Linked DNA regions of Homo sapiens: region 2 is linked to region 1. The links come from fine-mapping of genetic effects on gene expression. Tissue or cell type: whole blood. Region 1 holds a variant in brackets; the other region holds the start of a gene. All regions are shown on one strand. Distances are between the middles of the regions.

What was found. PIP is the estimated chance that this variant, and not a neighbour inherited with it, causes the effect.
Region 2: it holds the start of MCCC2, and the variant in region 1 is fine-mapped to the expression of MCCC2 in whole blood (TOPMed, PIP above 0.99).

The regions. Positions count from the first base shown.
Region 1 is chr5:71,654,457-71,662,562 of GRCh38, reverse strand. MCCC2 (methylcrotonyl-CoA carboxylase subunit 2) reads right to left here. Exons shown (of 17, transcript NM_022132.5): 17 at 3,857-5,820. The coding sequence ends at 5,703. Among named protein-coding and RNA genes, the nearest start is that of CARTPT, 61 kb to the left of the region's middle. The variant G/C (reference allele first, on the strand shown) is at 4,130.
Region 2 is chr5:71,584,231-71,592,336 of GRCh38, reverse strand. MCCC2 (methylcrotonyl-CoA carboxylase subunit 2) reads right to left here and starts at 4,997. Exons shown (of 17, transcript NM_022132.5): 1 at 4,783-4,997. The coding sequence starts at 4,911. LOC124900999 (a long non-coding RNA gene) reads right to left here. Exons shown (of 4, transcript XR_007058810.1): 4 at 8,083-8,106. RefSeq lists an enhancer at 4,552-5,338.

The sequences.
Region 1 (8,106 bases):
TGCTCAGTCTTCACAACTCGTTGCTAATGTGACATGGTCACTTAGACACAGCTTTTTTTTTTTTTTGAGACAGGGTCTCGCTCTGTTGCCCAGGCTGGGGTGCAGTGGCACGATCACAGTTCACTGCAGCCTTGGCCTCCCGGGCTCAAGTGATCCTCCCACCTCAGCCTTCTGAGTAGCTGGGACTACAGGCACACACTAGCATGCCTAGCTAATTTTTTATTTTTATTTTTTTGTAGAGACAGGGTTTCACCATGTTGCCCAGGTTGGTCTCAAACTCCTGGGCTCGCGCGATCTGCCTGCCTTGGCCTCCCAATGTGCTGGGATTACAGGCATGAACCACCATGCCCCAGCCTAGACACAACTTTTAACAATGAAAGAAAACATTGGTTTCTGCTAAACAATTTAATTCTATGGGAAGCTATTTCTGTATCTAAAAACACCACGGTAACCATTACATCCAGCAATAAATACCATAATATACACTTATAGAGCAAAACTTACCAACAAGTCTTAAAGGTCTGTGTATACTTTAACCTGTACACTTTTATCCAACAACACTATTGCTAAAAATGTATCCTAATAATCACAGATATGTAAAGAAACTAAACAGATGTTCACTGCAGCATTATCTGTAATGTGGGAAACCAGAAAAAACCTACAGGTACAACAATAGGGGAGTAGTTAAATCAAAGGGAGGATTCATGCACTGCATTATCGTGCAACATCAGAGTTATTGCAGAATATTAGGCTGGGTGCGGTGACTCACACCTGTAATTCCAGCACTTTGGGAGGCCAAAGTGGGTGGATCACCTGAGGTCAGGAGTTCGAGACCAGCCTGGCCAACATGGTGAAACCCCGTCTCTACTAAAAATACAAAAATTAGCTGGGTGTCGTGACGCGCGCCTGTAGTCCTAGCTACTCAGGAAGCTGAGGCAGGAGAATCACTTGAACCCCGGAGGCGGAGGTTGCAGTGAGCCGAGATCATGCCACTGCACTCCAGCCTGGGTAACAGAGTGAGATTCCATCTCAAAAAAGAAAAAAATTTGCAGAATATTAAATTTCATGTAAACAGGTCATTATATTTACAATACATTAAGTGAAATGCAGATTACAGAATAACATGTAGCACACAGCATTTTTGCAAAAAAAAAAAAATTCGTAAAGATAGAAAAAGACTAGTACACGAAAAATATTAATAGCAGTTATCTCTAGGTAGTGAGATTATGAAGCTTTTTTTTCACTTTATTTTCTTCACTTTGTCTTCCTAAATTTTCCGCAAGTAACATTGTTAGATTTTTAGATTACAAATAACTTTAAGACAAAAATTATTTCTAATTATCCGGTAGATAAAGGAATGTCATTAACAGTGCTGTGGCTGAAAAATGTTGAATACATTTTCTACAGGAACGTTTAAAATTAGTCTGAGTATTCTAAAATTCTACCTGTTTTTCTTCTGAGTTCACTTCTTACAATCAACACTTACTGAATTACACTTAAAAAAATTGTTTTTCTTGGTTGAGCACAATGGTTCATGCCTATAATTCCAGCACTTTTGGAGGCCAAGGCAGACGGGTCACTTGAGTCCAGGAGTTTGAAGCCAGCCTGGGCAACACGGCGAAAACACATCTCTGCTAACACAAAAATTACAAAATACAAAAATTAGCCGGACGTGATGGCATGTGCCCGAGTCCCAGCTACTCAGGAGGCTGAGGTGAGAGGATCACTTGAGCCCAAGGGGTAGAGGCTGTAGTGAGCCAAGATCACGCCACTGCACTCCAGCCTGGGCACTGGAGCGAGACCCTGACTCAAAAAAAAAAAATTTTTTTTTCTACTCCAGCTTACTTCTAACATCTGGTTCTGGGTATATTTTCCTTGCGATAACTTCTCTGTGAAATCATCACCTTCTAAGACCTTATTCTCCCTGAAAAATACTTCTCTTGCTTACCCTAAAAAGTAGCACAAACATGTGACTTGGTTTGTGAAAGACAAAGCTGCCAGACATATTGAACCACTGATCTCAGAAAACTAACAGCTGGGAAACAAAATCATCCCTGCCCTATGGTAAACTCTCCTCTAGGGTCAATTAAATGACTCCCTAGAATGCTAATGCACACATATTATGTGACTGGTATCATACTGAAATCTATATTGAAAGTCATGAAGCAGGTATCTTGAGCGAAGGCTTCTAAGAATTTTCAAAAGCTGATATGCAAACAAAGTATTCAGTCATGATGATGTTACAGGCAGCGAGCACACATCCCAGTTCAAACTGGGATGAGTCGGTCCCAGTTCAGACCTGTTTCCCAGTGTAGTTATTATTAAGACCCCCTTTTTCTCACTCTCAAAAGCCCCAATGTGGATGGTAAGTTACACAGTCAACTTGATGGAATGTACATTTGCCTAGAAAGGTAAAAGGGGCATAGAAATTTCATTCATCCCTAAGAAAAACTTAGTCCTCAGGATCCTGATTCCAGATACAAGAGAATTTGAAGCACATAAAATAAAAGCACTATTTATTTATTTACCTATTTATTTATTTATTAAGTAGAGACAGGGTCTTGCTATGTTGCCCAGGCTGTTCTCCAACCACTGGGCTCAAGCAATCCTCCTGCCTCACCCTCCTAAAGTGCTGGGATTACAGGTGTTAAGCCAGGGTGCCCCGCTGAAACAAACTATTTTTAAGCGTTTAGTGGAAAGGCACAAAACGTTTTGTCGAAAATGATTAAAATCTATGTCATCATTAAATATTAATTGTACTTAATTGTAACATTTTAAGGGAAATGTTATGAATGACACTAGGCTATGATAACCTAGTTCATCTTCTTGCCATTTTTCCATATATGAAACTTCAGAACCAATCATTAGAAGATCACTAAGAAAAAAAAAATCGCCAAGACTCTTAGTGGAGATTTAATCTTCCATAAAACCAAACTCAATGCATTTTAGAACTAATGTGGCCTCTCAAAAATAATCTTATTAATGTATCATTCCAAAACCTGCTTTGATTTATCCCTGTGAAGGAAACATATGGCCTCTCTCTGGAGAGACATACACATAAGCATGTTGGCAAATGATGGTGTCACTCAAACACTCAATAGTGCCTTCTGCTGGTGCAGAAGTGTTTTTTTTTTTTTAACAAATTCGATTTGAAAATACTTTTCTTATAAACTGAAAAATAGAAGTAATCTTGTCTTTTTCATTCTTTAAGTACCAACAGGGGCAAATTTAGAGACTAACTTGTATATTTCTTCAAATTCCAAGTAGCTCATATTATCCTTGCTGGAATTCATATTTATGATAGTCAAAATGTTTAAAAAGTATTACCTATTTTGGTAAGACAATTATAAATGTTTATTGTTGGGTAAAATATACAAAATAGAGCAAGGCGTAGTGGTGCAAGCTTGTAGTCCCAGCTACTTGGGAGGCTGAAGCAGGAGGATTGCTTGAGCCTAGGAGTTCGAGTCCAGCCTGGGCAACATAGCAAGACCCTGCCTCTAGAAAAATAAGTTTTAAAAAATCCAATTCACTTAAATGTGGTTTTATTGATGGACAGTTTCTTCCCAGAAAAGCAAAAGCAGTCCTAAAATATCCATGAATCCTTGACTTGTTAATGGTTCCTACCAAAGGAATATTACCTAGTCTTTATATAGAAAATCATTTTGACATAGATGTGCATTTTCATTAAAATTTTAATATTACTATTTTAATATACTTAATGTATTGCTTCTGAAAATGTAACCTACCACTGAATTTGATCATCTATCTATATTCTCCCCACAAAAACTAAATTGACTTCCTGGTACACATTGAACATCACACACAAATGTTTAAAATACTAAATATCACACACAAATGTTTGAAATATTGACTTTATTAGGAAAACATTTGATAGTTCTATTCGGTCATATAATCAATCACCTAATTTTAAAACTATGTGGCCAGAGGACATCAATTACAATATGGATTTTTCATTCATTCAACGAATATTTGAGCACCTACAAGTGCCAGACATTGGAGGTACAGGGTAAACAGGAGGATCCTTGCTCTCACGGAGCTTACATTCTAGCAGGAGGACAATATTAATGTTTATAGGAAAATGATGAGTTTATGACAAAGGAAGTAGATA[G/C]TGTTTTACAAGAGCATAGAGTAGGGAAGCTAATCCAGCACAGGGAGGTCACAGAGACATCCCTAAGGAAGTGGAGTTTAAACTGAGAGAAGCAAGTGCTTAAACTGAAGGATGTGTTGAAGAAGAAGGGAGAGTAGAACAATTTGGGCAGAGGGAACCTTATAGACCCTAAGGTGGGAAGGTTCAAAGAACTGAAAGAGAGCTAGAACAGCTGGAGCCGTTCTCCGGTGTAAAGAGGAGTCAAAGAGATAAGATTAAAGATGTGAAGATTAAGATCTTGGTGGCATTCAGGGATTGGCACTTCTACAAGAAATCACTGAAGGGAGTAATCTGACATTACTTTTCACTTCAGGATGGCCATTCTAACTCCAGGGGGTAGACTGGACTAGGTAAGACTGGAGGCAGGTAGACCTCTTCTAAGGCCTGCGATAGTGAAAGACAAAAATAAGTGGGGAAATTCAGGGGATAGTGAAAATCAGTAGGACTTAATGAGCAAGCCAGAGGTTCCTCCACAACAACCAGTACAGATGTCCAGTAGACCTACTGGATATGCAGGCCTGCAGCTCAGGGGAGAGCTGGGTTAAGAACCGTCAAGGCAGTAATCATCTGCATTTAGATGGCGAGTGAAGCCATGACAGGGGCTGAAATGGCCCAGCAAGAATAAATCAAACCATGAGAAACACATACATTTAAGAATAAGGAGATGTGGTCAGGCGCGGTGGCTCACACCTGTAATCCCAGCACTTTGGGAGGCCGAGGCGGGTGGATCACTTGAGGTCAGTAGTTTGAGACCAGCCTGGGCAACCTAGTGAAATCCCGTCTCTGCTAAAAATACAGAACTTAGCTGGGTGTGGTGGTGCGTGCCTATAGTCCCAGCTGCTTGGGAGGCTGAGGCACAAGAATCGCTTGAACCCGGGAGGTGGAAGCTGCAGTGAGCCGAGATCACACCACCGCACTCCAGCCTGGGCAACAGAGAAACACCCTGTCTCAAAAAAAAAATAATAATAAGGAGATGTCATGGGCTCGGGGGAGGGGGAAATGGGGAGCGCTGTTGTTTGAATGGTATAGTTTCAGTTTGGGACTGAGAACAAATTCTGGAGATGAATGGTGGTGATGGCTGCACAGCAGTGTGAGGGCACTTTATGCCACTGAAGTAACAGATGCCTTTCAAAAATAAGCCCGCTAAAATATCACCAAGCATAACCAGCAAAACAATCATTTCAGTGAAAATACAACTTTATATTAATCATCTCAATAATACAGATTACAGAACTGAGTTTACAGATTACAGAACTTTTCATACTTTGTGGGTCAGAAAGGATAACCGTAAATTACTGTCTCCGCTTTATGGGTGGTAAAACTGAGCCACAGAGAAATTTCTCTAAGAAAATTTAAAAGGAATTGATGTTCATTAAATAAATATCCTCACTGATTTTTTTAAGGTAGAAAAGTACAATGCACAGTGTTAAAAAAATTACTGTAACAGCCTCATGTTCGAGAAGTCTAAAATTTTAAGGCTACTACATGTGTTAATTTTCAGTACATGTCCAACAGAAAACATCCTTTATTCCAGTTACATCCTGAAGATACCGAAGTCAGTCTTCTCTATTGGTGCGTTGAGGGCTGCACTAAAACTGAGACCCAAGACCAGTCTGGTGTCTGCTGGATCAATGATCCCATCATCCCATACCCTGACAAAAGAACAAAAAAAGAGTTATGAATTTACCACCAAACTACCATTTATACACTCTCCATGTGCAGAAATGCCAAGGAAGTTTTCCTTCAGGTAATATATGGATCTACTGATTAGCATCCATGTACCATAATCTCACAACAGAAACTACGTTCAAGACAGAGGGGGAAAACGTGGAAAAAAATGATATGACCTTCATCCCAGGCCACCACAGAATGTCATGTCAGGCTTAAGGCTTAAGGAACTACTTTTATAAGAGATCTCAAAGTAACCCCTAATTTGACAATACGTTTACTTATTTCAGGAAAAATTTTCCTATTCCTTTTCTTCCCACACAAATATATAAGCCAAGTTGGTGTATTCTGTCATTAATATGCAGAACCACATATACCCAGGTAATAACCTCAAACTTTACTGGAAAATGTATATTCCCCAACCCCCATCCAAACTCTTAAGAAACTATGAAAATTATTGAATAGGCTTCAGTACATTTTATCTTATTTATTATTATTATTATTTTTGAGATGGAGTCTCGCTCTGTCACCCAGGCTGGAGTGCAGTGCAGTGGCACGATCTCAGTTCACTGCAATCTCCGCCCTCTGGGTTCAAGCAATTCTCCTGCCTCAGCCTCCCTAGCAGCTGGTATTACAGGAGTGCGCTACCACACTTGGCTAATTTTTGTATTTGTAGAAGAGACGGGGTTTCGCCATGTTGGCCAGGCCAGTTTTGAACTCCTGACCTCAGGTGATCCGCCCACCTCAGCCTCCCAAAGTGCTGCGATTACAGGCGTGAGCCACCACACCCGGCCAGCTTCAGTACATTTTATTAATAAAATAGATACCTTCAAATGTAGGTCTTTATTTTTTGCTACAATAGGAAAAACAATAACTTTAAACTGCTTGCAGAAGAAACTTTTAAGTAGAAATTTTAGTTTCCTTCTCATTGACAACCTCAAATGTATAACGAAAAATGACTGAGAAATATTACTTTTTAAAGGTTATTAGTAGGTGGCAGTTTGCTTTTTTTATATAAACTCCCTTCGGTATCTGAACCTGGCATCAACTATTAAACCATTCTTACATTGACAGACATGAATCAAACCTTTGCTCATAAAACATTCATAATAGGGACCCTAAAGTATCAACACCCAATAAAAAGAAAGCCACTCTTGTCATCTGCAACCAGGTGAATTGATTACACTCCCTCTGAAGCCTGCAGCACAGCAAGCATGGTGATGAAGGGGCTGCTTAATAATGTTCATTAAAAAGACTGCCCCAGGTAAGAGGCACTAATGAAATGCCGGATAAAAGTTTGATTATAAAAACAACTGAGCAGAAGCAAATTGGCACGCTACATATGTAACCTATTAGGATTAAGGAAAACATTGTAGGTTTCAGTAACTGATAATAACAAGCTCTGTCTCTGAAAAGACAGATCTAGCCATGTTCAAACCTAAGCAGGCCAGGGAATTTTACTGTGAAGCTGAGATTTACTAAACCCAAGGAAGGTACCATAAACTGGCTTGGAAATCCTTTCAGCTTTGAAAGAAAGCTGCTGTCTCCATGCCACCAGCTGTTTCAACAGAAGGGTTAAACATCTACAGATCTGGCCAGGTGCAGTGGCTCATGCCTGTAATCCCAGTACTTTGGGAAGCCGAGGCGGGTGGATCACCTGAGGTTGGGAGTTCGAGACAAGCCTGACCAACATGGAGAAACCCCATCTCTATTAAAAATACAAAATTAGCCAGGCGTGGTGGCACACGCCTGTAATCCCAGCTACTCGGGAGGCTGAGGCAGGAGAATCCCTTGAACCCAGGAGGCGGAAGTTGCAGTGAGCCGAGATCATGCCATTGCACTCCAGCCTGGGCAACAAGAAACTCTGTCTCAAAAAAAAAAAAAAAAAATCTACAGATCCACAGAAAACTTTACTGTCTGTTAACATTTATTTCCAAAGATAAGTCTCTCTGGGCCATTTACTCTTCTGCCTTGAATGTAATCCATTAAAAAATAATAATAATGTTAGTATGAAAATAATAAAAGATGCAATCTTTCTCAAGAGATGATTTATCTTAGCCAGGGCTGAAAAACAAGCTAACAGCTCACACAAAATACACAATTTTTCAAACTTTAATATTTCAGCTGTCCCTGTGTATTTCAGTCAAAATCTTATGTGGAAAAAAAAAACTATAGAAAAGCTTAACAATATATATTTTATATTTCATCTCAAACCTCTTATACGGCTTTCTATTGCTTCTTTCCATTTACTGGCTACTATATGTCTGTTT
Region 2 (8,106 bases), 70 kb after region 1:
CAATCTCGGCTCACTGCAACCTCCGCCTCCCGAGATCAAGCGATTCTCCTGCCTCAGCCTCCTAAGTAGCTGGGACTACAGGTGTGTGCCACCATGCCCAGCTAATTATTGTATTTTTAATAGAGACCGGGTTTCGCCATGTTGGCCAGGCTGATCTCAAACTCCTTACCTCAAGTGATTTGCCCATCTCGGCCTCCCAAAGTGCTGGGATTACAGGCATGAGCCACCGCACCTGGCCAAGGATCCTATTTTATGTTTTAAAAAGAACAGGCTGAGTGTGGTGGCTTATGTCTGTTATCCCAGAGCTTTGGAAGGCGGAGGCAGGAGCATCGCTTAAGCCCAGGAGTTTGAGACCAGCCTGAGTAACATAGGGAGACTTCCATCTTTACAAAAAGAATAAAAATAAAAAGAATAAAAATTTAAAAATTATCTGGGCATGGTGGTGTGTCCCAGCGACTTGACCAACTAAGGTGGAAGGATCTCTTGAGCCCAGGAGTTTGAAGCTGCAGTGAACTAGGATCGTGCCATTGTACTCCAGCCTGGGTGACAGAGCAAGACTGTTTCAAATAAATAAATAAATTAGTAAAAAGAACAAAACTCGGCCAGCCGTGGTGGCTCACGCCTGTAATCTCAGCACTTTGGGAGGCCGAGGCGGGCAGATCACCTACGGTCGGGAGTTCGAGACCAGCCTGACCAACATGGAGAAAACTCGTCTCTACTAAAAAATACAAAATTAGCCAGGCAAGGTGGTGCTTGCCTGTAATCCCAGCTACTCGGGAGGCTGAGGCAGGAGAATCCCTCGAACCCGGGAGGCGGAGGTTGCAGTGAGCCAAGATTGCATCATTGCACTCCAGCCTGGGCAACAAGAGCAAAACTCCATCTCAAAAAAAAAAAAAAAAAAACAGAACAAAACTCTATGCTGGCATATATACACAAATTAAGTAATACACAAGGAAATATTGACAGTGAGAAGTAGAAAAGAGGTAGAGGGACTAACTTTTCACCCTTCTGTATTTTTAAATTTTGTTTGGTCAGCATATTACTTTAGAACAATACTTAACTAGCTAATTATCTTTGAAATTCAGACTTGGCCCACTAATACATTTTGCTCCCCATGTGATTAGCATCTCTAGTTATTTAGTTCCTTCTGTTTGACAGAACACTAAGCAACTTCCTAACTGTTCAAACTTAGATGAATATTCAGTCTACAGTATATCTCCATTATTTCCTATTTTCTACAGCTCCAAGAGCTCTGAGGGTCATGATTTCTGCTACATTCTCTTGCTCTGCAAAATCCAGAAAATAAAAAACAAGGAAGCAGCATGGTATTAGGGAAAGAACCAGTTGGAGCTAACACAATATACAGAACTTGTCACCCTACAACAGCAGAAAAAAGTATGTAACTTTTCTCAAGTGCACAGGCAACATTCTCCAAGATAGACTACATGTCAGGCCACAAAACAAATCTTAATAAATTTTAAAAGACTGAAATCATACAAAGTATCCTTTTTTTTTTTTTTGAGACGGAGTCTGGCCGTGTCGCCCAGGCTGGAGTGCAGTAGCACAGTCTCAGCTCACTGCAACCTCCGCCTCCCGGGTTCAAGCGACTCTCCTGCCTCACACTCCCAAGTAGCTGGGATTACAGGCGTGCGCCACCATGCCCAGGTAATTTTTTTATTTTTAGTGGAGACAGGGTTTCACCATGTTGGCCAGGCTGGTCTAGAACTCCTGACCTCAGGTGATCCACCAGCCTCGGCCTCCCAAAGCGCTAGGATTACAGGCCTGAGCCACCATGCCTGGCCCAAAAGTATCCTTTCAATCACAATGGAATGAAACTAGAAATCAATGGCAGAAGGATGACTGGAAAATTCACAAATATATGGAAATTAAACAACGTACTTTTAAGCAACCAGTGGGTCAAAGAAGAAAAGCACTGACCCACTGAAGCTGACATTTGCCTCTACAGACTGGGCAACATCTGTGCCAAGCTCAGCCCATCAGACTTAAATCACAGAAGAGCCAGTACTGGCTACAGTTCACCTCCCAGGCAATCCTTTATCAACCAACCTAGCCTCCTTAGGATGAGACTCACTAACCAAGAGGCAGTGTAGTTTAGTGGCAAAACCAAGTTCAACTTTCAGTTTCCCTACTTACTGATACTGCATTTGGCAAATCTTGATCTCTCAGGACGCCAGGTGTTTGTGTTTGTGTGTGTGTGTGTGTGTGTTTTAATCACCTGCGAAACAACATTCTACAACCTAGTAATTTTCTTGTGAAGCTGAGCAACCACAGAGGTTAGTGCCTGACAGTCATAATGAATTGGAGCTGAGCCACTGACAAGTTTCCCACCCCATCTTTTCAACCATAGAACCCACCTAGGTAGAGCTGGGTGAGTGAGAAGCATTATAGAGCAACAGTTAAGACCCTGGACTCAAGAGTTATGAGCCAGACCACCTGGCTTCAAATTCAGGCTCTGTGTTATCTCAGACAAATTTCTTGGACCCTATATACCACAGTTTTCCCATCTATAAAACAGAAATAACAATTGTACCTACTGCACAGGATCATTATGATAAATACATGAGTAAAACCACATAAAGCCTTTAGAAAAATGGTGGGTACACTATAAAATTCCTGCCATTATTATTACTTATTATAGTTGCTTTTATTTGTAATCAGGAAACACAGCTAAACTGGATCATTCATCCCATTCTCCCCCACCCTCATGGACTTGCTTTGTCTAATGTGAGCACACATTAATTTCATCACATGCCAGCAAGGATTTTAAATCCAATTTGTGTTCAGCCTCTTGCTCCTGTGCCTTCGGCCATGAGAAGGGCATGTTTAATTCAGGGCTGCTCTTCAGCCTCAGTCCAGGAATGGGAAGACACATGGAGCAGACCTGAACCTACCCTGCAGTGGAACAGTCACAGCAGCAGCTAACCAAAGGCCACCAACACGAGTGAGAGATTAAGAAACAAAACAAAATCAAGTGAGAGACTAATATTTACTGTTGTGAGTTACTGAGATTTTTTGATTATTTGTTACACAAAGCGCAACCTAGCAAAAGGTGATTCATACAAAACCCATCACCAAAGCCTTCTTTGTATTAATGGCAGTTCCACCTAACTAAATATTCTGCCCAGTTGGAAACTCCAAAGTCATCCATTTTCCCCTTCCACTCAGTTATTAACTCTATAATCTTTGCTCCTCAGGTATTTATGCCCCCCTCCTACATACAACTCTAACTTTGACTCCTTCATCTCAAGACTCAACTCTCCACTGTCACCTAGGTCTAGTCTTTTCCCTATATCAATCCATCCTCCACATTGCCACCACACTGATGATTCTACCATATCCATAGGATCATGCCACTTATCTACTTAAATATTTTAATGGACAACCTGCCAAATGGAATCTAAATGTGGCTTTTGCATGGAAGATCCTCCTCTATCTGGCCCCATAATCAATCAATCCCATCACCAGACACTATTCAATGAATTCCATGTCCTAGACATGGAATTCAAGTCCTCACACCAGATATACACTTTCATAACTCAGTACCTATGTTCTTGTAACTCTCTTGGTTTATACAGTCTTACCTTCCATCCTGCACCCTGAACTTGGCCAGCTCTTACCCAAGATTCATCTCACCCATTACTTCCTATCGGTAGCTTTCTGTAACCACCTTCTCAAGCTTTAGACAACCCTTCTTACACTGTACCACAGTTACCTGCTTTCTTGTCCATCTTCCCTACAAAATTATTAGTTCCATTCCTACGCATCCATGCCAAATATCTAAAATAGTGCCTAGACCACAATAACCACTTAATAATTCTGAATTAAACATTCTGGACTGACAAACAATTGTGTGTTGTTTGCACTATTTAGATGTTATCTGTATAGGCTTAGAAATCGTGGGAACACAGTGAAATTTTCCAGCTCTGATATTTCGCAAGTTTTGAGTTTTTTGGCCTTATGATGCCTCCTAATTCCAAGAAAAGCCACTCAAAGATACTGTGGGATATTTTCTATTAACATAACCAACTTTTTTTTTTTTTTTTTTTTGAGACAGAGTTCGCTCTTGTTGCCAAGGCTGGAGTGCAATGGCACGATCTCAGCTCACTGCAACCTCCGCCTCCCAAGTTCAAGCGATTCCCCTGCCTCAGCCTCCCAGGTAGCTGGGATTACAGGCGCGCGCCACCATGCCCGGCTAATTTTTGTATTCTTAGTAGAGATGGGGTTTCACCACGTTGGCCAGGCTGTTCTCGAACTCCTGATCTCAGGTAATCCACCCGCCAGGGCCTCCCAAAGCGCTGGGATTACAGGCGTGAGCCACTGGGCTCGGCCATCATAATCAACTTTTAAACTCAAATTTCCTAAGCACAGCGCCCCTCGTTGGGCTGCTCTAGGCCAGTGGTTCCCAAAGCTGGCTGCCAAAAGTCCCCTAATGAGTTCACTAACAATATAAACACAGCGACTCCACCTGAGACCCACAAGGTCCAGAGTAGGGCTCAGGCAGCTATTCAGCTAGCTCCCCAGGTGGCAATTCTAAACCAGGCTTTAAGAACCACTGATTTCAAAGACACAAAGTACAGTGCCAGCTCTAAAAGTGAACTAAACTTTCTTGTATCTGTTAGGCTTTTCTTCTTCAAACTTCACGTGCGTCACAGAATCAACTGGGGCTCCGGACAAGAGAGCAGCAGTTGTTGAAGCGTGCCCCTCCTCCACTTGCTTCCTAGCCTGGCACCGGCGGCCAGGCCACCGGGGCGCTCAGCCTACCTGGTAGAGGGCAGAGCCCAAGTCCGGCTGGGTGCCCAGCGAGGCCACCGAGTCCCCGTGATAGGCGCGCGGCCCGGCGGGAGAGGCGCGGGCACACGGCCGCAGGGCTAACCTCAGGACGGCCCACATGGCGGCGGGCACCGAGCGAGAGAGCGGCCCACGCTGGCCTGGAGCCGGTGCTTTCCCCTGCCGCTTCCCTGGCTGGGGCGGAAGCTGAGCTCAGGTCCTTGCAGCCCCAGAGAAGGTTTCTCTGATTCTCAGGCCTGTCCACACACGTGCCTAAGCGCGCCGCCCGCGATTGGTCAAGCCGCGCCACGCCCCCTGACCCAGCCAATAAGGGACAGAGCCTCAGCCCCGCGAGGTCGCGTCTAGTCCCGAGCGCAGGAGAGCAGGTCTCCCCGGCGGATCGACCCTCACGAAGCGGTGCGGCAGTGAGAGAGCTGCGGTTGGGCTTGGATTGGTGTTGTGTTGACACAGCGATAGATAATATCACGATAGTGACTGTACCTAAGGCAGGAGAATAAGTCTGGAAGCAGGGAACCTAAGGCTGTCTCACGCTGACTTCCTAGAGCTAAACTGAAAGGAAAACCCTAACTTTCCATGCCTAAGTAACAAAAGGACCAAAGGCTACTCCCTTTGCAAACCCCCCCACCTTTTCCGCAGGGCAGATAGGAAATTGGCTGTCCCCGACAAATCAGACTTACTGCTGGTGGAGGCTTGCTTTGCCAAGTTTGAACCTTAACTCCAGCCTCTGAATGGTTGCTGTCCACAACCAATCAGACTGATTGGGGGTCCAGTCTTCGTTTGCATAGAAGTATAACTTTGTAATTTCACCCTAGCCTCTGACTGCTTGCTTCTTGCAACCAATCGGGTTTGAGGTGAGCATAAAATGGCCAATAGGAAACTTCTAGTGGGTATTTGGACCCAAGAAGATTCTATATCCGGGCCCTTGAGCTCTGCTCGGTCCGCTCCCACATTGTGGAGTGCACTTTCGTTTTCGGTAAATCCCTGCTTTCGTTCTTTCGTTGCCTTGTTCTTTCTTTGCTTTGCTGGGCGTTTTGTCCAATTCTTTGTTCACAATGCCAAGAACCTGGACAACTTGCAGTCACAACCCCCAGTGACACACCAACAACATGAGTGAATCGCATCTAACACGTGCTTGCGAACAGCACAACAAGCCTGTTGTCCTTTCACTGGAGACCTTAAACATTCTTCTGATTATTTTCGCTATGTAGTTATTTTTATTTTTTACTTTATTTCATTTTTTGAGACAGGGCCTCACTCTGTCGCCCAGGCTGCAATGCAGTGGCACGATCACAGCTCGCTGAATCCTTGACCTCCCACCTCAGCCTTTCCAGTAGCTGAGACTACAGGTTTGTGCCACCAAGCCCGGCTAATTTTTTATTTTTGTAGGGGTTTCACCATGTTGGCTATGCTGGTCTTGAACTCCTGGACTCAAGCGATCTGCCCGCCACAGCCTCCCAAAGTGCTGGGATTACAGACATGAGCCACCACACCAGGCACTATGTAGTGACAGATTGTGGACATCAGCACTGTGGTCTTAAATAAAGGACTCCAAATATACCCATAAAAATTAAAACATTCTATACAAAATGCCTTGAACTTAAGGTTTTTCATTCACATATTTATTGAGCACTTACTACTTCTACTCCATTGGTTGCTTAGTGGGGCAGAGTAAAGGGGGAGGATGGGGTAGAGAAAGGGTGCGTCTACACCTGGAGGTAAACTTAGGTTCAGACTTCAAGGTACTTATAAGAAAATAATACAAATGGCCACATGATTTCTTACTGAACTGTGTAGGACAGACATTAAAGGAACAGAATGCAATTGGGAAAGGGTTGCAGCTGAGCCTTGCAGAAGCGTTGAGAGTGGACTGAGCAATGAACATGGCCAGGCTTTGTGCAAATGGAGGAGAGCATGAGCTAAACTGCAAAGGTATGATTTACACTGTGCTTGCCTCCCATGGTCAACAGAAAAAAAGGCCAGTAAAAACTGACTTTTCATATGTATCAGGGTATCAGAAGAGAGGGTTTGATATTTTAATTGCCACACTTTATTTTTCTCTAAATAGTTCTTCAATGATGCAAAGTACTTAAAATCACCACCCGAAGACAGAAAAGACACAATAGGATATGATTCCTTGCTTTCTTTAAAAGTCATACCTGTTTTGGCCGGGTGCAGTGGCTCATGCCTATCATCCTAGCACTTTGGAAGGCCAAGGCAGGTGGATTATCTGAGGTCAGAAGTTTGAGAGCAGCCTGGCCAACATGGTGGAACCTCATCTCTACTAAGAATACAAAAATTAGCCAGGCATAGTATCACGTGCCTGTAATCCCAGCTACCTGGGAGGCTGAGGCAGGAGAATCGCTGGAACCCGAGAGGCAGAGTCTGCAGTGAGCCGACATGGCACCACTGCACTCCAGCCTGGGTGACAGAGCAAGACTCTGTCTCAAAAAAAAAAAAAAAAAAAGTCATACATGTTTCTTATTTCTTGTAACTTTTGTTACAAGAAGCTCTTTGGAAATGTATAATGTTCCCAGAACAGCTAAGTAGAAAAATGCAAAAGGTGAAGTGCAAATGCACAGAAGGCCAAAAGCAGTCACCTAGCATCTGTTAGTGTCCAGTGTCTCTCTACCCCACTATTGAGATTACAAGGAACATAATCTTTGCCATCTCTGATTTTTTAAAATAATGTTTTATTGAGGCCAGGAACTTGAAACTAGCCTAGGCAACATAGTGAGCCCATGTCTCTGAAAAATAAAAATAGCCATGCACAGTGGCATGTGCTTGTAGTCCTAGCTACTTGGAGGGTGAGGTGAGAGAATCACTTGAGTCCAGGAGTTTGAGGCTGCAGTGGGCCATGATCTTGCCAAGCACTTCAGCCTGAGTGACAAGAGCTAGACCCTGTCTCTAAAAAAAACAATAAAAATAAAATAAAAATAAAGTAAAATAATGTTTTTATTTTATTTATTTATTTATTTATTTTTCTGAGAGGGAGTCTCGCTCTGTCGCCCAGGCTGGAGTGCAGTGGCACGATCTCGGCTCACTGCAAGCTCCGCCTCCCGGGTTCATGCCATTCTCCTGCCTCAGCCTCCCGAGTAGCTGGGACTACAGGTGCCCGCCACCACACCTGGCTAATTTTTCATATTTTTAGTAGAAACCGGGTTTCACCGTGTTAGCCAGGATGGTCTCGATCTCCTGACCTCGTGATCCACCCACCTCGGCCTCCCAAAGTGCTGGGATTACAGGCGTGAGCCACCGCGCCTGGCCAAAATAATGTTTTATATAATAAAAATAAGAGAA